7 linked regions of the Homo sapiens genome follow. The protein of the gene in region 1 purifies or fractionates together with the protein of each later gene. This does not show direct contact. Each region holds a gene or a part of one and is shown in the gene's direction. Other genes may lie near its edges.

Region 1 (3,500 bases):
CATGCTCCCTGCTCCCTGCTCCTCATGGGCCACTTCAAATACCCCTTCCCATGATGCTGTCTGTTCTCCCAAAGCTGGTATGAGCCTTCCCCCCGGTGGGAGGGGGCTGGGGCAGAAGCTACTCTACAGAGAACACCTAGGCAGAGCTGTGAGGTGTCCCCACGGTCACACATTTGCTGCCCTCTCGCCCCCGTCCACTGTGGTTTCATGTTCAGAAATGTGAGTCTGTGCTGGTCTCTGCCCCGAGCCCTTCATGCTTGGCGTGTCCCTCTCTGAGTCCTGGTGTGCAGTCCTGTCCCTCTGGACCATCCGCTCCAGGAGGGGAGGCCAGAGGCGCTCCTCATCTGCCTCTCGCAGTGCCAGGCCAGGGCTTGTTAGGTGAGATTAAATGGACAGCTCCAGGGGTGGGAGTAGCTGGCCCAGAGCTCTGGCCTTTAGCCCTGGGATCAGAGCAGAGGTGGCTCTGATCAGCCCGGATGTCACCCGGAGAAAGGTTACGCAGGCAGCGAGCCCTCGTGTTTGCTGAGGCGTTGCATAATGTTCTGCCAGCGTGATCTGGTTACACGTGAGATCTCAGACGGCTCTCACCCCGGCCTGATCCCTTCAGCGCAGCCAGCCTGGCAATCTCACACAGGCCTGTGAGCTGTTCTTGCAGTAGCTCCCTGGCAGCATTGGAAAGGGCCGGTGAATGGTTTTCTAACCGGCACCTCCCGGCTGTGTTCAGCTGAGGTTCTATACCTGTGCCTCTCCAGGACCCCAGCAGGGGTGAGAGCTCTGCTACCTTCAGAGTGAAGGGAAAGACCCCAGCCCGCTTCCCACCCAGAGTCCTTGGCCTTCTCCCTGTCCTGTGGTCCCTGGCCTGGAGCCGTGCTAGAGGGTAGACGGCGACAGGTGCCAGCAGCCTTGCCCCAAGGGTCCTGAGTCAGGCTTGTGCCATCTTTCCTCACAGATCTTTGATGTGGGTGAGAATCTAACGGTCCCGGATGAGTTCACAGTGGAGGAGAGGCAGACGGGGATGTGGTGGAGACACCTGGTGGCAGGAGGTGGGGCAGGGGCCGTATCCAGAACCTGCACGGCCCCCCTGGACAGGCTCAAGGTGCTCATGCAGGTATGTAGGGAAAAGGCCCCAGACCCCTGGGGGGCCAGTTTCCACCTGGGGGATGCTGCTTGGCTAGTTTTCCCTTTCTCTGGCTGGTGCCTGCTTTGGGCCCAAACTTTTCTAACCCAATAAATTAGACTAGAATTATTGCTCAGACAGGGGGTACCAAAATGTCACTGTAGGTGACATTTTGTGCAGAGCGGATCTAATTTTATCTGAGGCATCACATTACAGGGGCATAATGTGGACAGGTGAAGCTAGCGAGACTGGGGTGAGGCAGGAACCAATTTCTGTAAGTACGTTTTGTGTACGTTACCCCACACTGGGGCCAGCAGAGCCTCACCTGACCCAGATGCCAATGGGAAGCCACGCCATTACCTTGGCCAGGTACGCAAATCCATGTCCACACAGCAGAGATAAGCTGGGCTGATGTCAAGGCAGAATTGTGAAACTGACCCACACAACGACACTGGTGGACTTTGATGTCTGAATGGTGACTGGCCACCACTTGTCCCCTTGCCCGTACCTAGTACTTCTTGTGCCAGGAGCCCGGCTTGGAAGAGCTGCCTCCTTTCTCTCCCCAGTCTGCCTTGCTGGGCCTCCCTGTGTTGCACAGAGACAAAGGAAGCAGGTGGTTCAGGGCAGAATGCCTCGGGCTTGGACTCTGCCCAGGGCACCACCACAGCTGCCTCCCTCCCTCTTGTGGCCTTGAGCAAACCCCTTTCCCTCCCAGGACTTCCCCTCCTCTGTGAAAATAGGGGCTTGAACAACTGCCTCATCCTTTTGTTTTTTTAGCAGAATTATCAGGAATGTTGTAGAGATTGAAAGCAGGCCTTGGGTGAAATCAAATGCCTGGCGTGTGCCTTTAAACCAGCATGGGTGGGGCAGCAGGAGAGAGAGGTTGGCTGTGGTTTGATCATTGTCTAAGCTGAGTGGGCATTCATTCTATTTTTTAATATGTCTTAAGTTTTTTTAATAATGAAAAACTTTGATTTTTAAAAATTATTATTATTATTATTATTATTATTATTATTATTATATTTTTTGAGACAGTCTCGCTCTGTCACCCAGGCTAGAGTACAGTGGTATGATCTCAGCTCACTGCAACCTCCCTCACTGGGTTCAAGCAATTCTACAGCCTCAGCCTCCCTAGTAGCTGGGATTATTACAGGCATGCGCTATCACCCCAGGCTAATTTTTGTATTTTTAGTAGAGACGAGGTTTCATCATGTTGGCCAGGCTGGTCTCACACTCCTCACCTCATGTGATCTGCCCACCTCGGCCTCCCAAAGTGCTGGGATTACAGATGTGAGCCAACACTCCCGGCCTTTTTTTTTTTTTTTTTTTTTTTTTTTTCTAAAATAGAGTCTCGCTCTGTCGCCCAGGCTGGAGTACAGGGGCGCGATCTTGGCTCACTGCAACCTCCACCTCCCGGATTCAAGCGATTCTCCTGCCTTAGCCTCCCAAGTAGCTGGGATTACTGGTGCCTGCCACCACGCCCGGCTAACTTTTGTATTTTTAGTAGAGACGGGGTTTCACCATGTTGGCTGGGCTGGTCTCGAACTCCTGAACTCAAGTGATCCACCTGCCTCAGCCTCCCAAAGTGCTGGGATTACAGGCATGAGCCACCGCGCCCAGCCTTGATTTTTTTTTTAAGTCATCTTTATGGAGATGTTCAGGACAAGGCTGGCAACCAGCAGATACCCAGTACGATGGAGCTGAGCCTCACTTAGCCGTGTTGGGTTACTTTGGGCTCATGATTCCAAGCTTGTCTTCAAAATGCACGGAAGAAAGGGCCTTCCCTTTGGCCGCAGCCGGTTGGCCAGCAGAGGCTCTTGGCCGGGTGAGGCAGCCTGTGGCCCCCCGGGTCCGTCTGACTGTTCGGTCCTCCCTCCCAGGTCCATGCCTCCCGCAGCAACAACATGGGCATCGTTGGTGGCTTCACTCAGATGATTCGAGAAGGAGGGGCCAGGTCACTCTGGCGGGGCAATGGCATCAACGTCCTCAAAATTGCCCCCGAATCAGCCATCAAATTCATGGCCTATGAGCAGGTGAGGACCCAGCTCCTCAGGAGGGTCACCGGCCAGTGGCTACTCACTGCCTGGACTTGCTGGCTTTCCCTGGGCTGAGCTCCCTGACACTTGGAGCCAGCCGTGGTACCCCAGGGACAGCAGGGCGAGGCAGGAGGCCCAGGCTCACCACGAGTTCCTTACATTTCTGGGTAGCATAAAATGTGCCGGGGACTCCTGGAAGGGAGGGGCAGCAGCAGGTGCCCCAACCTCTGGGTATATCAGGTGGTTTGTTTGTTCCTGGTTCTAGATCAAGCGCCTTGTTGGTAGTGACCAGGAGACTCTGAGGATTCACGAGAGGCTTGTGGCAGGGTCCTTGGCAGGGGCCATCG
Region 2 (3,500 bases), on another chromosome or scaffold:
GAGCCTTCTCTGTCACCCAGGCTGGAGTGCAGTGGCGCGATCTCTGCTCACTGCAAGCTCTGCCTCCCGGGTTCACGCCATTCTCCTGCCTCAGCCTCCCGAGTAGCTGGGACTGCAGGCGCCCGCCACCACACCCAGCTAATTTTTTTTTTTTTTTTGTATTTTTAGTAGAGACAGGGTTTCACCGTGTTAGCCAGGATGGTCTGGATCTCCTGACCTCGTGATCCGCCTGCCTCGGCCTCCCAAAGTGCTGGGATTACAGGTGTGAGCCACCTCGCCCAGCCTATGTTAACTTATTAATTTCTTTCATATATTTGATCTTTTTGAAAAAGTTTTGGGGAGAAAAAGATTTTAAAAATGACCACATATGAAAGACACCAGAATATACAAAACAAAAGCACACACATTGAGCCTGGGCAATTTCTTGAGTCCCTGTCTCTAGAAAAAAAAAAAAAGATTAGCTGGGCCTGATGGTATACCCCTGTGATCTCAGCTACTCAGGAGGCTGAGGTGGGAGGATTGTTTGAGCCCAAGAGGTCGAAGCTGCAGTGAGCCACGATTGTGTCACTGCACTCCAGCCTGGGTAACAGAGCGAGACTGTCTCAAAAAACAAAACAAAACTGACCCCTGCCCCCCCATCCAAAAAAAAGCACACACAGTATTCATAATAACTGTAAAAGATAATATGACAGAATTGAGAACAAATAATATTAGTTTTTATCAATACCTATATATATGGATTTAACTCTCCAATTGTAGATTTCAGTGTTTATAAATTACCATCTTAAAGTGAAGATAAAAGTATTATCTTAACTTTTCACATTGTCTTGGCTTTTTCTTTTTGCAAAGATCCTTTTAGTACAGTTGATATAGAAGATCATGAGTGTGCTGTGTGGCTGCTCCTACGGAAGAGCAAGTCAGATGACAAAACCACGCGACTCGAGGCTGTGCGGGAAATGTCGGAGACCCATCACTGGCATGGTAATGAGACTACCTGAACAGGTGGCATGCCTTCAGCTGGCTCTTGATTGCTGACATAAAAGACAAGGGAGTGGCCAGGTGCGGTGGCTCACGCCTGTAATCCCAGCACTTTGGGAGGCCACGCTGGTTGGATCACAAGGTCAGGAGTTCAAGACCCACCCTGGCTAACATGGTGAAACCCCGTCTCTACTAAAAATACAAAAAAATTAGCCAGGCATGGTGGCGGGCGTCTGTAGTCCCAGCTACTCGAGAGGCTGAAGCAGGAGAATGGCGTGAACCCAGGAGGCAGAGCTTGCAGTGAGCCGAGATTGCGCCACTGCACTCCAGCCTGGGCAACAGAGCGAGACTCCATCTCAAAAAAAAAAAAAAAAAAAAAAAAAAAAGACAAGGGAGTGGGAGTGAGATTCAGGAAGGAAAATAATTCAGGCAGTGTTAGTATATATAGAAAGTATTTGAAAAATTTTAAGAAGCTTCAGTGATACGGAAAGTAGAAAGCCTGCTGAACTGGTAGTCAAATGTGTTTGGTAAGAATAAGCTCAAAAATGAGGTATATATATTTGTGTAACTTTCTACCAGAACAAAGTTTTATTTGGTTACATACTTCTTTGAGAGCAACTCTTGATTCTGATAGTTACCTAATGTACTTGAGTTTTCTTTTGGTTTCTATTTAATGAAGTACATTTAATTGCTTGCTACACCATACAATTATGTTTGCTTTTACTTTTACAATCTACTTGGCTCTAATACTAATAGTCGAATGTACCCAATTTGTATTTGTGTATATCATTTTTAATGGACTATTTGAAATATGTAATTGTGTTTAAAAATCACAAATTTTACAATAAAAATATTTTTAAAAGAACTCATATCTTCTCTGGTTATAGTACATGGATAAAACTATAATTTGTTAGTAGAGCTGTCTTGTAAAAATGGGAAAAGTAGAAAAAAATAATTTTCTCAGCCAGGCATGGTGGCTCACACCTGTAATCCCAGCACTTTGGGAGGCTGAGGAAGGCGGGTCACTTGAGGCCAGGAGTTCAAGACCAGCCTGGCTAACATGGCAAAACCCTGTCTCTACTAAAAAAATAGAAAAAATTTAGCTGGGCATGGTGACGTGTGCTTGTAATCTCAGCTACTTGGGAGGCTGAGGCACAAGAATTGCGAACCCACGAGGTGGAGTTGTTAGTGAGCCAAGATTGTACCACTCCACTCCAGCCTGGACAACAGAGCAAAACTGTCTCAAAAAAAAAAAAAAAAAAGAAAAATTCTCAAAGAAAAGTTAAGCTCAGAATGAGATCTCTGCAAATTAATTTGTTAATTGGTTGGTGGCTATAATTATAATTTATAATGTAAGTATAAGCTTACTTAATGTTGGTGGAGATTTAGAATAGAAATATTTTTCAAAATTTGCCTTCCAGGGCTCCATTCCAGACTTATTGTATCAGAGAAATCAGAGGAAGTGCCCTGGCCCACAGATTTTGGAAAAGTTCCCCACTTGATCCAGAAGTACTCACCCAGGTTATTATTATTATTGTTTTTTGAGACAGTCTTGTTCTGTCACCCAGGCTGAAGTATAGTGGTGTGACCTTGGCTCACTACAACCTCCGTCTCCTGGGTTCAAGCTATTTTCCTGCCTCAGCCTCCCGAATAGCTGGGGTTACAGGTGCCTGCCACCACGCCTGGCTAATTTTTGTATTTTTAGTAGAGACAGGGTTTCACCATGTTGGCCAGGCTGGTCTTGAACTCCTGACCTCAAATGATCCGCCCGCCTCGGCTTCCCAAAGTGCTGGTATTACAGGCCTGAACCATGGCGACTGGCCAACCCCAGGTTATAAACTGCCATTATTGAAAATAATGTTTGCTTTCATGGTTGGAATTTTGTTTTTGATATATAAAGAATGGCATGTTTAATTCAAAGTACTGCTATCTGGAACTGCAGACTAAATATTCATGGACACTATGAATACCAAAGCACCATATCATCACCACGGAGCAGTAGGCTTAAATGCCACCTCATGTGTTTTGAGTAGTGGTCAGAACATCTTTTGAATGCTGGAATTGTTTTAAAAAGAAGTTAAATTGGTTCTGACTTACCAGTTTCCACCTTTGAGCTTCCTTTTTTCCAAAAAGTTAGGCTGTGACCCGGTCTCCATATATATGTTGAGGAGAATTGTGAGATCAGTCCTGGAAACGTATCTAGCTTATAGGTGTTGTAAATGTAGTTGCACTTGGGAAATTTTGGATTACAAATTTGCAGAGCAGTTTAAAAATTAGAGTGCTTTCAAGTTGTTTGTTCAGTTAATCTTTATGACATCTGTCAGCTAGTTTTGGTATTAACAAAAGAAAATGCTTTTTCAATAGATTACCAGTATAGGATAATTGCTCAAGCCTGTGATCCGAAAACTCTTATTGGTTTGGCACGAAGCGAAGAGAGTGATCTTCGCTTTTTTCTCCTACCACCTCCTTTGCCATCTTTAAAAGAAGTAAGTAAAACAATAATAATAGTAATTTAGAGAGTG
Region 3 (3,500 bases), on another chromosome or scaffold:
TAATTTTTGTATTTTTGGTAGAGACGAGGTTTCACCTTGTTGGCCAGGCTGGTCTTTAACTCCTGACCTCAAGTGATCCGCCCACCTCAGCCTCCCAAAGTGTTGGATTATAGGCGTGAGCCACCACACCCGGCCTTATTTATTTATTTTTACAAGACAGGGTCCTGCTGTGTCACCCAGGCTGGAGGGCAGTGGCATGATCATAGCTCTGTGTAACCTTGAACTCCTGGGCTCAAGTGACCCTCCTTCGTTGGCCTCCCAAAGTGCTGGGATTATAGGTGTAAAGCCACTGAGACCGGCCCCTTTATAATCTTTTAAAAATGCTTTTTACTTTGAAAATAATTTTTCTCTTGAAAACTTTAACTTAGCTCATCCTTGTACAAATTCTGAGTTGACATCTAAACAAGAAGGGTCTATAGGACATGCACCTCTTTGCGGCTGTGATAGAGTGCTGGGAGCTTATTGTCACCTGGCAACTTTCTTTCTCTGTAGGTTGGTGGTGCTCTAGGGGCGACTCACTCATGAGCATTGTGATCTCCTTCCAGATATTTGTGGATAACTTTGTCCATGCAGACCTTCACCCTGGAAACATCCTGGTTCAGGGTGCCAACGGCCTGTCCTCGAGTCAGGAGGCGCAGCTGCAGCAGGCGGACATCTGTGACACTCTGGTGGTGGCCGTGCCATCTTCCCTCTGCCCGCTGCGACTGGTGCTGCTGGATGCTGGCATTGTGGCGGAGCTGCAGGCCCCTGACCTGAGGAATTTCCGGGCAGTTTTCATGGCTGTGGTGATGGGGCAGGTGAGACGCACTGGGACCACAGAAGTTGGGGTGAATTTTTTTTAATTAAAAGAGCTGGTGAAGCATGGTGGCTCAGACCTGTAATCCCAGCACTTTGGAAGCCTGAGCGGGGAGGATTGCTTGAGCCCAGGAGTTCAAGGCCAGCCTGAGCAACATAGTGAGACCCTGTCTCTATAAAAAATAAGAAAATAGGCCAGGCACAGTGGTTCACGCCTGTAATCTCAGCACTTTGGGAGGCCAAGGCGGGTGGATCACCTGAGGTCAGGGGTTCGAGACCAGCCTGGCCAACACGGTGAAATCCTGTCTCTACTAAAAATATAAAATTAGCCAGGCATGGTGGTGTGTACCTGTAATCCCAGTTACTTGGGAGGCTGAGGCAGGAGAATTCATTGAACCTGGGGGGCATAGGTCGCAGTGAGCTGAGATTGTGCCACTTCACTCCAGCCTGGGTGAAAGAGTGAGACTCCATTTCAAAAAAAAAAAAGAAAAAGCCAGGCTTGGTGGTGTGCGCCTGTGGTCCCAGCTACTTGGGAGGCTGAGGTGGGAGAATCACTTGAGCTCAGGAGTTTGGGGCTGTGGTGAGCTAGGATTGCACTGCTCTACTGCAGCCTGGGTGACAGAGTGAGATCTTAGTTTTTTTTTTTTTTTTTTAAAGTTTCAAAAAATTAATGGAGATGGGTTTTGCTATATTGCGCAGGCTGCCTTGGCCTCAAGCCATCCTCCCATCTCAGCCTCCTGAGTAGCTAGGACTACAGGCTGGGCAGGGGGTGAATCTTTTATACTCTGGGGAATGCCTCTGTCTCTGTCTTTTTTTTTTTTTTGAGACAGAGTCTCGCTCTGTCACCCAGGCTGGAGTGCCTTGGCGTGATCTCAGCTCACTGCAACATTCACCTCCTGGATTCAAGCAATTCTCCTGCCACGCCTCCTGAGTAGCAGGGATTACAGGCACATGCCACCATGCCCGGCCACTTTTTGTATTTTTAGTAGAGATGGGGTTTCACCATGTTGGCCAGGCTGATCTTGAACTTCTGACCTCAGGTGATCCACCTGCCTCAGCCTCCCAAGGTGCTGGGATTACAGGTGTGAGCCACTGCACCCAGCCAGAATGTCTCTGTCTTGAAACAGGACAGGTCTCCTTAGCCCGGTCATTCTTGTCAATGCTCACACTTGCCAGTGTGCCAGAAACGAGTGGAGGGAGGCAGGAGGACAGGAGGCGAGGCTGCCCTTAAGGGGCTTTCTGTTAGCAGGTGCTGGGTGCAAATCAGGCCAGTTCTGAGTGGCAGATGGTTTGGGACTGTGGGAAGAAACAAGTGCTGTTTCGTGTTAGTAGTTTCTGGTCCTTCTCCAGCAAACATCCAGCTGGTCAGCAGGAATGCTGGCTTCTTGACCAGATAATGGCTGCCCCTGGTGTGTGCTACCTGCTGCAAGGTGGCAGGCTGGTGAGATGCGACAGCATAGAGAACACAGCCTCTAAGTGGGGCACAGCATGCTGGCACGTCCGATGTGGGGACATGAGTAGTTTTTGCAGCCTCCCCTGTGATTCTGAGGGTCTGCAGTGGTTGAGAATGATTATTTAGAGAAAAGGCATTCGGCAAGGCCTCTGCAGAGTCAATTGAAAGCACTACGTCGTGGGTGACTCTGAGGAGGCCCTCTGGCCGGCTGGCAAAGAATTCTCCAGCAAGAAAAACACTGGGAAAAAGAGAACTGTTTTTTTTAAAAATTAATTAATTAATTTTTTTTTTTTGAGATGGAATCTCACTCTGTTCCCTGGGCTGGAGTGCAGTGGTACGATCTCAGCTCACTGCAACCTCTACCTCCCGGGTTCAAGTGATTCTCCTGCCTCAGCCTCCCAGGTAGCTGGGATTACAGGTACCCACCACCATGCCCGGCTAATTTTTGTATTTTTAGTAGAGATGGGGTTTCATCATGTTGGTCAGGCTGGTCTTGAACTCCTGATCTCAGGTGATCCACCTGCCTCGGCCTCCTAAAATGCTGGGATTACATGTGTGAGCCACTGCATCTGGCTCTTTTTAAAAAAAAATTTTTTTTTTTTAAACAGCAAAATGCAGGGCAGTCCCTGCCTCTGAGAGGGCAAACCCAAAGCTGGGGCCTGCAGCTGGTTTGAAAGTGTCCCCTGGGCCAAGGTTAAGCACTGAGGCGCAGTGCAGCGGGGGTGGGGGCATTCCTCCCTATAGGTATGGGCAAAGGGAAAAGGTCACAGCCCGAGGAGGAAGAGCCAAAAGCAAGATGCCAGAAAAGTCAGGGTGGAGCTGCTGAGATGAGAAAGACGCTTGGGCACCGCATCCAGGTTTATGCTAGCTCCACTCCAAGTCCCTTTTCCGTTGCATTTTCCAGGGCCAGAGAGTGGCTGAGCTGATCCTGCATCATGCCCGGGCCAGCGAGTGCAGGGACGTGGAGGGGTTCAAAACCGAGATGGCCATGCTGGTGACCCAGGCCAGGAAGAACACCATCACCCTGGAGAAGGTGGGCAGGTCACTTGCGGAACAGGGGCTGGGGAGTCCATACCTGGCCTGGGGCAGAGCAGATCCTGGGTCTAAGGGAGACCTCTTTATGAGGGGTGTGAGTTTTAAAGCAGAAAAAGAACCACCCCACATCTTCCAGGCATGAGGAGCCCCAGTGAAGTCCGTTGTGCTCAAGGGGGCCTCCTTGTGCGGTGCCACTTAGGAGGCTGCAGCTCCTTCC
Region 4 (3,500 bases), on another chromosome or scaffold:
TGGAGAGGTGACTCGGGGGTCTTTCTCTTAGTCTGCAGTGAGGGTCTGTGACTGTTAGAGAGAGGTGGACTCGGGTCTTTGGGAGCTTTGATGTCCCACTGCCTGGCATAATAGACCATAAGTCCTCTTTGTCTGAGGCTCTGAGTTTTACAAATGTTTTTCTTTTCTTTTGTAATGTGTGTGTGTGTTTTAAGTTTTAATTTCTTTTTATCATTATGAGAATACACTTCTGTAGGTTCGTGCTAACCATGTGGTACATTCTTACCTTTTACTTGACGTCATTTAGCTCGGGTGAAGAGAACCGATCTGGACAAAGCGAGGACTTTTGTTGGCACCTGCCTGGATATGTGTCCTGAGAAGGAGAGGTACATGCGGGAGACCCGTAGCCAGCTGAGCGTGTTCGAAGTGGTCCCAGGGACTGACCAGGTAGAGCCCTGCATCTCCCCGTGGAGTGTGGGCAGGGGACGGGGCTGCTTTTGTCATTTCTGTACATACTTGATTTGGGTGTTTGTTTTAGACAGTGTTGGGTATTTGTGCTATTAACAATCATATTAAGCTGTTTTGCATTGTGAGATGTTCACTCTGTAATTGGTACCTATACATGATAAGGTATAGATGCAAGTTATTTTAAATAAAGTTGTTTTTCAAATTCTTTTTTTTTTTTTTTTTTTTTGAGACAGGGTCTCACTCTGTCACCTAGGCTGAAGTGCAGTGGTCCAATCATGGCTCACTACAGCCTCAACTTCCCAGGCTCAGGTGATCCTCTCCTCTCACTCAGCTTACAGAGTAGCTGGGATTACAGGCATGCTCCACCACGCCTAGTTACTGTTTTATTTTTTGCAGCGATGGGGTCTTGCCGTGTTGCCCAGGCTGGTCCCGAACTCCTAAGCTCAAGTCATCTGCCCACCTCCGCCTCCCAAAGTGCTGGGATTACAGGCGTGAGCCACCACATCCAGCTAACTTTTTTCTTTTTACGATCTTATTCCTGTCTGTTTCTATGCTTATGTTTTACACATTCGAGATTATGCTCTAGATACAATTTTATGTGTATCTTTTCCACTTAAAATTATGTCATGAACATTTTCCTTTGTTAGGGTAAACTATGAGCATTTAAAAATGACAGCATATTATTTTATTAGTAGCTCTGTCAAAACTCTGCATTTTTACCATTAGTAGATAGGCTGCTTCTAAATTTTTAGTTCTATTAGTAATATTGTTTGGCATCTTGTATGTAATGCTTCTCTGGTATTTAGATTATTTTCTTCAGATCCTAAGAATTAAATTACTGCATCAGAGGGTATGACCTTTCCTGAACATTATCCATGTATCTTCCCAAATTGTTGCCCCAGAAAGCTGCACCAATATAGATCCTTTTGGACTTTGTGAATTTTGCTTATGGGCTTCTCCTCTTCCTGGCTGGTGGCTTTATACACCCTTCGCCTGGTGCGGGGTCCCCAGCCCAGCAACTCGTGTCACTGTAGGGCCCCTGCCCCAGGAGAGGCACATGCCCAGGGCCTTGTCCTGTGTACATCTCTGCCTCTTCCCTTGGCCACGTCTTCAGCCTCCTTTTGAGGTGGGAGATGCAATTCCAGGCCCCAGGTGGGCAGCCAGCCCCTGATGCTGTGTCCTCAGCAGTCCTCACCGCCTGTCTCTGTTTCACTTCTGCTCTGTGTAGACTTAATCTGGTGTGTGAGCGGGCCTGAGACCTTTTAAGTGCTTGAGGCCCTTCCCTGTCCCGTCTCTCTGCTTTGGAGGCTAGCAGATGTGCCTTCACTTAACATTCCTCCTGTTTGTCATGACGCACTCATATCTTAACTCCTTGTCATATTTGCCAAAATCAAATTTCTCTATTTGTCTTTGAATTTTGATTGTCACCTTTTAACAGAAATTTTATGTTGAAAAAATATATTCTCAAATACTGATCTTGTGTGGGTGTGTATGTGATTTTCCCCCTCATTTTCAGGCATAACTATGCCTGGCCCAAGGTATGCCACATGGGCATCCTGTCTCGGCTTCATGTCTCTAGGTGGACCACGCAGCAGCTGTGAAAGAGTACAGTCGGTCCTCGGCGGATCAGGAGGAGCCCCTGCCCCACGAGCTGCGGCCCTTGCCAGTGCTCAGCAGGACCATGGACTACCTGGTGACCCAGATCATGGACCAGAAGGAGGGCAGCCTGCGGGATTGGTATGACTTCGTGTGGAACCGCACGCGTGGCATACGGAAGGTATTGGCTGCCTCCAACCTGGATGCTAAAAAATCCACGCAAATTCCAAAGTCAAACTGATATTTTTATTACTCTGTTATATATTTTATCTGTAACAAAAATGTACTTTTGTGGGCCAGGTGCAGTGGCTCAGGCCTGTAATCCCAGCACTCTGGGAGGCCGAGGTGGGTGGATCACCTGAGGTCAGGAGTTTGAGACCAGCCTGGCCAACATGGTTAAACCCCATCTCTACTGAAAATACAAAAATTAGCTTGGCGTGGTGGCACACGCCTGTAGTCCCAGCTACTCGAGCGGCTGAAGCAGAATTGCTTGAACCTGGGAGGCGGAGGTTGTGGTGAGCCAAGATGACACCACTGCACTCCAGCCTGGCTTCTGTCTCAAAAAAAAAAACAAACCCCAGGACTTTTATTTAAGTCACTACAAAGTCCTATTAAAATGTGCATCATGGGCTTTGTTTCAAATTGAAAAGTGAGAAATTGAGGTCGTAGCATGATCCTTCTCACGGTTGCCTCTTTGCATGGGAATGTGTGTGTGATCCTCCCCCTCGCCTGTGGCCAGGATATCACGCAGCAGCACCTCTGTGACCCCCTGACGGTGTCCCTGATTGAGAAGTGCACCCGGTTTCACATCCACTGTGCCCACTTCATGTGTGAGGAGCCCATGTCCTCCTTTGATGCCAAGATCAATAATGAGAACATGACCAAGTGCCTGCAGAGCCTGAAGGAGATGTACCAGGACCTGAGAAACAAGGGTGTCTTCTGTGCCAGCGAAGCGGAGTTCCAGGGCTACAATGTTCTGCTCAGTCTCAACAAGGGAGACATCCTAAGGTGAATTTTCACATCCAAAAGTTGTCCTAAGGTGGCTGAAAAGGCAGGCTTTAAACAGGAGAAGAGCTTTCAGGAGTGGCAGTAGCCAATAGTGCAGCATTCTGTCTGGTAGCAGATGTTGGGATGATAGTAGAGGACCTTGGTCTGGCTTTGCAGTCGGCTGAGCTGAGCTGGGGGAAGAGCGATGGGGGTGTGCCCTGGGACCAGCACATCTGACGTAGGCCCCACATGTTCATTTCTGAAAATAGTTTCTCCTCACCAGTGAGAAAATGAGGAAGGAATCCTCCTCATGAGACAGGTGAGTGAACCAGGAGAGGGAGTTCCAGGTGCCCTGCAAGGTTGTTAGCAGTTCCCTGTTCCCAGATAGTTTTGTCAAAGATCTCAGAATAAGAGAGGAAAAAATTATGTAAAACAAAAATGCGAAGAATGGGGTAGTGAGAATGAATGAA
Region 5 (3,500 bases), on another chromosome or scaffold:
TTATCCCAGCATTTTGGGAGGCTGAGGTGGGTGGATCACCTGAGGTCAGGAGTTCGAGACCAGCCTGGCCAACGGGGTGAAACCCTGTCTCTACTGAAAATACAAAATTAGGCGGGCGTGGTGGCATGCGCCTGTAATCCCAGCTACTCGGGAGATTGAGGCAGGGGAATCGCTTGAACCCTGGAGGCAGAAGTTGTAGTGAGCCGAGATCGTGCCACTGCACTCTAGTCAGCGACAGGGTGAGACTCTGTCTCAAAAAAAAAAAAGAAGTATCTTTCAGTATGACTTCAAATTCAGCCCAACAAATACGGAGTACCTCTTAAAAGAAAGAAATGATGCTAGATGTGGGGGATACAAAGAGGAATAAGATATGGTTCTTGATATTTACAGGATGCTAAGATAAATAAAAAATGATTATTAGTACAAGGATATGATTTATCATAAGAAAAATAAAAACGGTATGCAGTTTGAAGGAAGATGAATCTGCTTCTAGTTTGGGATAAGAAACTCTAGTGCAAGATTTATTCATTCATTAGGTAGATCGATATTTATTGATACTTATTGATTAATCTACTATTCTGTGTTCTATTGCTGGGGAATGAGCAAGGAACAAAACAGTCTGTTTTCTTGGAGTTAACATTCTAGTTAGGTAATGCAAATAAGAAACAAACATATAGTATGCCAAGCAATAATAAGTACCTTGGGAAAAAATAAAGCAGATTAAAGGTATTAGAGAGGGGTGGGCAGCAGAGAAGGGGTACTAGTCTATGTTCGGTTGTCAAGGAAGGCCTCACTAATCAGAATCCGGAAGGAAGCACGGGAGCAAGTCCTTTAGCTGTGTGGAGGGAGAGAGAGCCTTTTAGGCTGAGGAAGCAGCTGATGCAGAGAACCTAAAGTCAGCGTATGTTTGATGTGTTCAAGGAATAGCAAGGAAGACATTGGGGCTGAATGGAGTAAGGGAAGGGAAGAACAGTTCAAGATGAGGTGAAAGGGGACCAGACCACGCAGGATCTTCTAAGCCATTGTAAGGACTTGACTTTCACTTCAAGTGATAGGAGAAGCTAGTTGAGGATATTGAGCAGAGGAGTGACTTGATTTGACTCATGTTTTATTGTGATCACTGGCATTATTGTGTGGAGTAGACTAGTGGGGCAACGGTGGAGTCAGGGAGACTTTTTAGGAGACTCTCATAATCCTGGTAGGAGATGATGGTGGCTTGGACCAAGATATCTGGTAGCAGAAAATGGGGAAAGAATCAGTCAGATTCTGGATATATTTTGAAAGGAGTGATGACAGGATTTGTTGGTAATTTAGGCATACTTCGTGCCTTTTGTGAGCATTGAGGACAGCCAAGCATGGCTTCTTAACACCTATTTTAGTTTGTTCAGGTTGCAATAATAAAAATACCATAGACTGGGTGGCTTATAAACAACAGAAACTTACTTCTCACAGTTTGGAAGGCTGTGAAATCTTAGATCCAATTTCCAACAGATTTGGTGTCTGGTGAGGGCCCACTTCCCAGCTCATAAACAGCCATCTTCTCCTTGTAACCTCACATGGTAGAAGGGGCAAGGGAGCTCTCAAAAGCCTCTTTTATAAAAGGGTGCTAACCCATTCATGAGGGCTCCACCCTTATGACAATCGCCTCCCAAAGGCGCTTACCTCCTGATACCATCACATTGGGAGTTGGAATTTCAACATATAAATTTTGACAGGACACAGACATTCACTCTATATCAGCAGCTATCTTAACTAGATTTCATTTGTATTCTTAATTTGAAAAAAAAATTTGAGAAAGAAATAGCAGTGAAATTTACCTGATATAATATGTAGTAATTATTCCTCTTAAAAGGGTAGTATAGGCATGGGACATTATGTATTTCTTCAGTAACTGACTTGTACTGAGGATCACTGACTATAAGAGGGTCCTTTGTGCTATCCAAGGCCCCTGGGACTTTATCGCACCCTGGGAGGCCTGGGCCTGTCTCTAAAGCAATGATAACAATATGATTTTCTCTTGAATTTTTTTTCTTTTTATTTTCGCTCAATGAAATTCTAAAAATATGTGGTTTGTTTAATTGGATAATAAATTCTGTTAGCCAACTTTTCATGTGAAGACTCCTAAATTCTGAGTTGTCATTTCATCATCAAATTACTGAGCATCTTCGGAGAGGTAAAAACTGTGCTTTAGAGATGTCTTTAAAATAATAATGAATTGATTAGTGAGTAGGAAGAAAAATGGCTAGAGAAACAAATTTTATTTGGGAGCAAATGATGAAGACAAAGACGTGAGACATTTTTCTTCTAAAAATAAACTATCCTAGTTCAGAAACTTAATTTGAAAACCTCATATAATTTCTTATATTCCCCACCCCAAGTGATTAAATTCAATTTGAAAGTAATAAAACTCTATTGCAATATTGGGAATAACTCAGTGGTTGAAGTGAAACTGATAGTACAAGGGTATATTGTTAATTAGAATATACAGTCATAACTCAAAGATTGGAATTCCCTATTATTGTAGTCTAATTTCTGACATATAATGAAAGAAGGCAGTTTCTCAGGCAGTATATAGAATTATGTGAGTCTGTATACTACTACTACATTTTGAAATTATATTTTATGTAGCATGCTCTAGTGAGTATGTTATGTTCTACCTAAGGTTCCTGTCCTTTGACATCTCTAGCAGTATGGTGAAGTTATGTTCCCCTCAAAGGCAGTTGAGAATACAGCACTAGAGAGCACAGACAAATCCAGGCCAGAGATGAAGATTTCAGAGTTTCAGAGTCATCTAAAAAGAAGTGATAGTTGAAGCAATGAGAATGGATGAGTTCACGTAGGAAGTGATTAGAGAAAAAGATCAAAGTAACAGTATTGCATATTTTCCACATTTAATGGGTGGGAGGAAGACAGAGCCTGTGTTGGATCAGATTCATAGGAAATCAAGAAAGCAAATAGGAAACCAAGAAAGCAGGATTCTGTGGGTCTGTGATTAGAACACAAATTTTGATCATTTTGATTTTTAAACTTTAGCTTATTGAAGATTGTATATTTTTATTTCTTATTGGATCCCTTGCATATCATCACAAAAATGTATTGTTTCTTACTGTAGCTTATCAACTTTTAAAATGTTTTAAATTTACACTTTATGCATTCAACAAGTATTTATCAGTCATCTGTTATATGCCAGGTTGTAGGTGATGTGAAATAAATAGACAAAAATCCCTGTCCTCATGAAGCTTATTCTGCAGTAAAGGGAGACAGATAATAAATTTGGTGCTGGGGGCGGGAGTGGGGGGCAGTGAGGAGGGAGAGGCAGCTCTCTTATGTCTCTTTTTATAAAGCTACTAATCCTATTCGATCAGGGCCCCACCCTTCAGACCTCATTAAACCTTAGTTACCTCCTTTTAGGCCTTATTTCCAAATACAGTTACACTGGAGGTTGGGACTTCAAAATATGAATTTTAGAGGAACACATGAGTCCTTAGCACACAGTTATG
Region 6 (2,312 bases), on another chromosome or scaffold:
CGGCTAATTTTGTATTTTTAGTAGAGACAAGGTTTCTCCATGTTGGTCAAGCTGGTCTCGGACTCCCGACCTCAGGTGATCTGCCTGCCTTGGCCTCCCAAAGTGCTGGGATTACAGGCGTGATGAGCCACCACTCCCGGCCCTTTACCAGTTACTTTTAATAATACTACTGACATATACGTGTATCAGTTTCAGAATGCTTTACACACAGCCATCCAACTGCATATTGTTTTGTTACAGTACTTCTATATTTGGTTTTCCAAGTATATCATCACATCATCTACAAATACTTGTTTTCATCTTCAAAATAGGAAATAATAGGACTAATTGTCGGGACCTTTTTCATGTCTGACTTTAAAATAGATGTCTCCAATGAATTCTCAGTTAGTATTGTACCAGAAGTAGAATCTACATTTTAACAAGAGCCCTGGGTGATTCACATTTATTCTACTGGATAATTTTTATTTCTATTAGACGAGTTTTTGGTTTGTGGTTAGGTTCGTTTGTACTTGTGTCCCTCTAAAGGAAAGAAAATATGTTCTTTTTTCCCAGATTTGGAGTCAGCATATGAAAATAAGAGTTTACCTACAGAAAAAAACATTCATGAAATAAGGGCTTCCAAAAGGAATTCAGATAGAAGAAGTAAATCCCTTGGCCGTAACTGGATATGTGAAGGTACGCTTGAAAGACCACAGCGCTCCAGAGGGAGGTATGTCAATCAGATGATCATCAATTATGTCAAAAGACCTGCTACTAGAGAAGGCACCCCTCCTAGAACACATCAGAGACATCATAAGGAGAATTCCTTTGAATGTAAGGACTGTGGGAAGGCCTTTAGTCGTGGCTATCAACTTAGTCAACATCAGAAAATCCATACTGGTGAGAAACCTTATGAATGTAAAGAATGTAAGAAGGCCTTCCGTTGGGGCAATCAGCTTACTCAACATCAAAAAATTCATACTGGGGAGAAGCCCTACGAATGTAAAGACTGTGGGAAGGCTTTTCGATGGGGCTCAAGCCTCGTTATTCATAAGAGGATTCATACTGGTGAAAAACCCTATGAATGTAAAGACTGTGGAAAGGCCTTTCGGCGTGGTGATGAGCTCACTCAGCACCAGAGATTCCACACTGGGGAGAAAGACTACGAATGCAAAGACTGTGGGAAGACCTTTAGCCGTGTGTATAAACTTATTCAGCACAAGAGAATTCATAGTGGGGAGAAGCCTTACGAGTGTAAAGACTGTGGGAAGGCTTTTATTTGTGGTTCAAGCCTCATTCAGCATAAAAGAATTCACACAGGTGAGAAACCCTATGAATGTCAAGAATGTGGGAAGGCCTTTACTCGAGTCAATTACCTTACTCAGCATCAGAAGATCCACACCGGTGAGAAGCCTCACGAATGTAAGGAGTGTGGGAAGGCCTTTCGCTGGGGTTCGAGCCTCGTTAAGCACGAGAGGATACATACGGGCGAGAAGCCGTACAAGTGCACAGAATGTGGGAAGGCCTTCAATTGTGGCTATCACCTCACTCAGCACGAGAGAATCCACACAGGCGAAACCCCGTATAAATGTAAGGAGTGTGGGAAGGCTTTCATTTATGGATCGAGCCTCGTGAAACATGAGAGAATTCATACCGGGGTGAAACCCTATGGGTGTACAGAATGTGGGAAGAGCTTTAGTCACGGCCATCAGCTTACACAACATCAGAAAACGCACAGTGGGGCGAAATCCTACGAATGTAAGGAGTGCGGGAAGGCATGTAACCACCTAAACCATCTCCGAGAACATCAGAGGATCCACAACAGTTGAAGAGCCTTTTGAACGCAGTAGCCCGCTCGTATCTATGGTTTCGCTTTCCACAGTTTGTTACCTGCAGTCAACTGCAGTTCAAAAATATTAAATGGAAAATTCCAGAAATAAAGAATTTTAAGTCTCAAATGGTGTGCCCTTCTGAGTAGCGTGATGAAATCTCTCGCTGTCCGGCTCCAGCCGGCCGGGGATGTGAGTCATCCCTTGGTCCAGCACATCCACGCTGTATACGCCACCCACCCTGCTAGTGACTTAGTAGCCGTCTTGGTGATCAGATCAACTATCCCAGCATCACAGTGCCTGTGCCCAAGCAGTCCTCACTTTGCTTAACAGTGGCCCCAGAGAGCAGGAGTAGTGATGCTGGTGATTCGGATATGCCAAAGAGAAGCCACAAAGTGCTTCCTTTTAAATGAAAAGGTGAAAGTTCTCAACTTAAAAAAGAAAAGAAAAAAATCATATACTGAGGTTGCTAAGATCTACATGACAATAAGATATTTTGGGAGA
Region 7 (3,500 bases), on another chromosome or scaffold:
TGTTGGTCAGGCTGGTCTCAAACTCCTGGCCTCAGGTGATCTGCCCGCTCCTGCCTCCGTAAGTGCTGTGCTGGGATTATAGGCGTGAGCCACTGTGCCCGGCCTGTTCTTATTTTTATTTTTTGCTTCCCTATACTGTATTCTTGGTTTTATTCTGTTGTTTCTTTCCCCTGTCTTCCTGAGTTGGATGCTTAACTCATTAATTTTCAGCTTTGTCTTGTCTGATAATAGCATCTTTCCCTTCAGTGTGTCTGCATGGTCACCTGTCACCAGTGTCTTGTCCGAATACAAAAGGCACCCCATGCAGAGCCTGAGCCTGCCCGTTCTTCCTCTCTCTCAGGCACTGTCACTGCTGTGGGAAGCTTTCCCACATGGTGATGTGCTTATCCAAGGTGATGGCTTGCCCTGTGACCCCATCTGTGGAATACGCATGCTCCTTTTTTGGTTATACTTGCATGTCTTTATTTGACTGAGCTTCCTTATTGAAGTAGAACATGCACCCCGAGCACCAGTCGCAGGTGTACAGCCATGAACCTGCTGCTAGTGGACCTGCTTCCTGGAGGCCCCCCGTATGTCCCCCCCAAGGAATTATCCCAAAGGTAACCACTATCCTGATTTCTCTCCCTGTCAGTTTGTCTTGCCTGGTTTTGAGCTTGTTTGTAATTGGAATGATACGTCGACATGCCTTTCACTTCTGCCTGAGTGTGGGCTACTGTGGACCAGGCCCTTGTCTTGGGCAAACTATATCCCCAGAGGAGCCTCGCTCTGGGCTTGGGGTCCTGGGCCCACTCAGCGAGTGTTCAGTGAACATCCAGTTGTAGCGTCTGCACTTGCCTATCACATGCCCTGTCCCCTGAGCTGGGCAGAGTCCAGACCCTCCATTTCTCTTCCCTTCACTCTTCTTTCACGTCTTCCCCAGGGGACCGGGCCGAGTACTGCAAGGCAGCCAATAAGAGGGTCATGGATGTGATCAACTCAGCCAGGACCCGCCAGCAGATGCTGCATGCCCAGACCTTCCACAGCAACTCTCTTTTGACCCAGGAAGATGCAGCAGCTGCTGGGGATCGCAGACCAGCCCCTGACACCTGGATTTATCCGCTGATTCAGATGAAGCCCTTCGAGATTCAAATCGATGAGATTGTCACTGAGACCCTGTTGACTGAGGCGGAGCGCGGGGCAAAGGTCTACCTCACCACTGGCTATTTCAACCTGACCCAGGCCTACATGGACCTGGTCTTGGGCACTCGGGCTGAGTACCAGATCCTGCTGGCCTCACCAGAGGTGAATGGCTTCTTTGGGGCCAAGGGGGTGGCCGGCGCCATCCCAGCGGCCTATGTGCACATCGAGCGACAGTTCTTCAGTGAGGTGTGCAGCCTGGGACAGCAGGAGCGGGTCCAGCTTCAGGAGTACTGGCGGAGGGGCTGGACGTTCCACGCCAAAGGTGCGCAGCGGCTGGCTGGAGGACGTTCCAGTGTGGGACAGCCACAAACATGGGCAGGGGGTGGGGAGCCCTGGCGCCTACCTGTTAGAGTGCTGTACTTCTCCCTTCCTACCTTCCCAGCAGCCCTTGCAGGCACATCATAGCTGTCCCATGACTTGGGGAGAGGCGAGCATTCATCTCCTCAAGGGAATTTTTTTTTTTTTTTTTTTTTTGTGACAGTCTTGCTCTGTTTCCCAGGCTGGACTGCAGTAGCATGATCTCAGTTCACCGCAACCTCCACTTCCCGGTTCAAGCAGTCCTCCCACCGTAGCCTCCTGAGTAGCTGGGACTACAGGCGCGTGCCACCATGTCTGGCTAATTTTTGTATTTTTGTAGAGATGGGATTTTACCATGTTGCCCAGGCTGGTTTTGAACTCCGGAGCTCAAGTGGTCTGCCTGCCTTGCCTCCCAAGAAGTGAATTTCAGTTGTGTAAAATCCGTCTCTTTTATGCATCAAAGACTGTATATGGTCACATTATTTGGTGGCTGTGGTAAAGATGTGGTGACATAACCTCTCCTAAGAGATGGAGAGGAACATGCCTTAGCTGTGAGATGGAATGTCACTCTTGTCGCTCAGGCTGGAGTGCAATGGTGCGATCTTGGCTCACCGCAACCTCCTCCTCCTGGGTTCAAGCGATTCTCCTGCCTCAGCCTTCCGAGTAGATGGGATTACAGGCCTGTACCACCACGCCTGACTAATTTTTTATTTTTAGTAGAGATTGGGTTTCTCCATGTTGGTCAGGCTGGCCTTGAACTCCTGACTTGAGGTGATCCACCTGCCTTGGCCTCCCAAAGTGCTGGGATTACAGGTGTGAGCCACCACGCCCGGCCCTTAGCCTTGTGTTGATTGTCAGAGTTCCTGCTTGTTGGCAACTTTTTTTTTTTTTGAGACAGAGTCTTGCTCTGTTGCCCAGGCTGGAGTGCAGTGGCACGATCTCAGCTCACTGCTACCTCTGCCTCCCGGGTTCAAATGATTCTTGTGCCTCAGCCTCCCTAGTAGCTGAGATTACAGGCATGCACCATTACGCCTGGCTAATTTTTGTATTTTTAGTAGAGATGGGGTTCCACCATGTTGGCCAGGCTGGTCTCGAATGCCTGACCTTGTGAGCCACTTGTCTCAGCCTTCCACAGTGCTGGGATTACAGGCGTGAGCCACTGCGCCCGGCTGGCAATGCCTTTCTCAGGGAGAAAGAAGATTCATTAGGGATCATTTGTTTTGGCATCAGCAGCCCAGTTTTCTTGTCTTTTCCTCACTATTGCTATTGTTTTTTTCCCTATATGCCAATGTCTGCCTTTTTTCCCCATAGCTGAGGAAATGGAGGCTCTGTGCACAGTCTTGCTGGTGGGGGTGGTAGGAAGAGGGTCACACTCTGCAATGCATGTTTATCCCTCTCAGGCATCTGGCGGAGCAGCCGAAATGGGGCAGAATCCCAGGGGCAGCTCTCTAAGACATGGGTATAACATGCTGGAAACCCTGTGCTTAGCAGTGGGCTTACTGCATGGCCTCTTAATGCTGGGAGGGTGCCCGCCTCTAGCAGCGGGACCATGACTCCTTTCTGACGCTGGGGACCCCCAATCCTGGAGCTAGTCTGTCTAGAGAAGGGGAAATGGTGCCTGGAGGCCCCTGTGCCATGAGTACATCCCACGGCTTTTCTGGCTTCTCCCTGGGCAGTCCAGAGGCCTGTTTTGCTCCTTCTCTTGTCCTGGTTCTAGTGGCTTTCGGAAGAGCTGAGTGAGTGGGGGGCCTCCATGGATGGGGAATCTAGGCTGTGGACTGCAGTAGGCACACAGCTGTGTTGTTGAGACTCGAGGCATCTTCCGGTGCTCAGGTGGTTTGTTTTTGTTTTTGTTTTCTTTAAACCAATGTTTTTCAATTGGGGGATGCGTTGTAAGAAATACTGAAGCCGGCCAGGCGCGGTGGCTCACGCCTGTAATCCCAGCACTTTAGGAGGCTGAGGCAGGCAGATCATGAGGTCAGGAGATCCAGACCATTCTGGCTAACACGGTGAAACCCTGTTTC

The links.
Region 2: the proteins of SLC25A25 (region 1) and SERAC1 purify together in Homo sapiens (affinity purification with mass spectrometry; one large-scale study listed by BioGRID and IntAct). This does not show direct contact.
Region 3: the proteins of SLC25A25 (region 1) and ADCK2 purify together in Homo sapiens (affinity purification with mass spectrometry; one large-scale study listed by BioGRID and IntAct). This does not show direct contact.
Region 4: the proteins of SLC25A25 (region 1) and MCM3AP purify together in Homo sapiens (co-immunoprecipitation; one large-scale study listed by IntAct). This does not show direct contact.
Region 5: the proteins of SLC25A25 (region 1) and OMA1 purify together in Homo sapiens (affinity purification with mass spectrometry; one large-scale study listed by BioGRID and IntAct). This does not show direct contact.
Region 6: the proteins of SLC25A25 (region 1) and ZNF331 purify together in Homo sapiens (co-immunoprecipitation; one large-scale study listed by IntAct). This does not show direct contact.
Region 7: the proteins of SLC25A25 (region 1) and PGS1 purify together in Homo sapiens (affinity purification with mass spectrometry; one large-scale study listed by BioGRID and IntAct). This does not show direct contact.

The regions. Positions count from the first base shown.
Region 1 is NC_000009.12:128,102,732-128,106,231, forward strand, and holds part of SLC25A25 (mitochondrial adenyl nucleotide antiporter SLC25A25), read left to right. Parts: intron 1-949; coding exon 950-1,108; intron 1,109-2,997; coding exon 2,998-3,150; intron 3,151-3,418; coding exon 3,419-3,500. UniProt on the Homo sapiens protein: Electroneutral antiporter that most probably mediates the transport of adenyl nucleotides through the inner mitochondrial membrane.
Region 2 is NC_000006.12:158,144,263-158,147,762, reverse strand, and holds part of SERAC1 (protein SERAC1), read left to right. Parts: intron 1-849; coding exon 850-981; intron 982-3,342; coding exon 3,343-3,464; intron 3,465-3,500. UniProt on the Homo sapiens protein: Facilitates the transport of serine from the cytosol to the mitochondria by interacting with and stabilizing Sideroflexin-1 (SFXN1), a mitochondrial serine transporter, playing a fundamental role in the one-carbon cycle responsible for the synthesis of nucleotides needed for mitochondrial DNA replication.
Region 3 is NC_000007.14:140,686,445-140,689,944, forward strand, and holds part of ADCK2 (uncharacterized aarF domain-containing protein kinase 2), read left to right. Parts: intron 1-545; coding exon 546-797; intron 798-3,152; coding exon 3,153-3,281; intron 3,282-3,500. UniProt on the Homo sapiens protein: The function of this protein is not yet clear. It is not known if it has protein kinase activity and what type of substrate it would phosphorylate (Ser, Thr or Tyr).
Region 4 is NC_000021.9:46,272,112-46,275,611, reverse strand, and holds part of MCM3AP (germinal-center associated nuclear protein), read left to right. Parts: intron 1-286; coding exon 287-426; intron 427-2,026; coding exon 2,027-2,224; intron 2,225-2,782; coding exon 2,783-3,051; intron 3,052-3,500.
Region 5 is NC_000001.11:58,501,727-58,505,226, reverse strand, and holds part of OMA1 (metalloendopeptidase OMA1, mitochondrial precursor), read left to right. Parts: intron 1-3,500. UniProt on the Homo sapiens protein: Metalloprotease that is part of the quality control system in the inner membrane of mitochondria. Activated in response to various mitochondrial stress, leading to the proteolytic cleavage of target proteins, such as OPA1, UQCC3 and DELE1.
Region 6 is NC_000019.10:53,576,145-53,578,456, forward strand, and holds part of ZNF331 (zinc finger protein 331), read left to right. Parts: intron 1-552; coding exon 553-1,808; 3' UTR 1,809-2,312. UniProt on the Homo sapiens protein: May be involved in transcriptional regulation. May play a role in spermatogenesis.
Region 7 is NC_000017.11:78,402,649-78,406,148, forward strand, and holds part of PGS1 (CDP-diacylglycerol--glycerol-3-phosphate 3-phosphatidyltransferase, mitochondrial precursor), read left to right. Parts: intron 1-919; coding exon 920-1,441; intron 1,442-3,500. UniProt on the Homo sapiens protein: Functions in the biosynthesis of the anionic phospholipids phosphatidylglycerol and cardiolipin.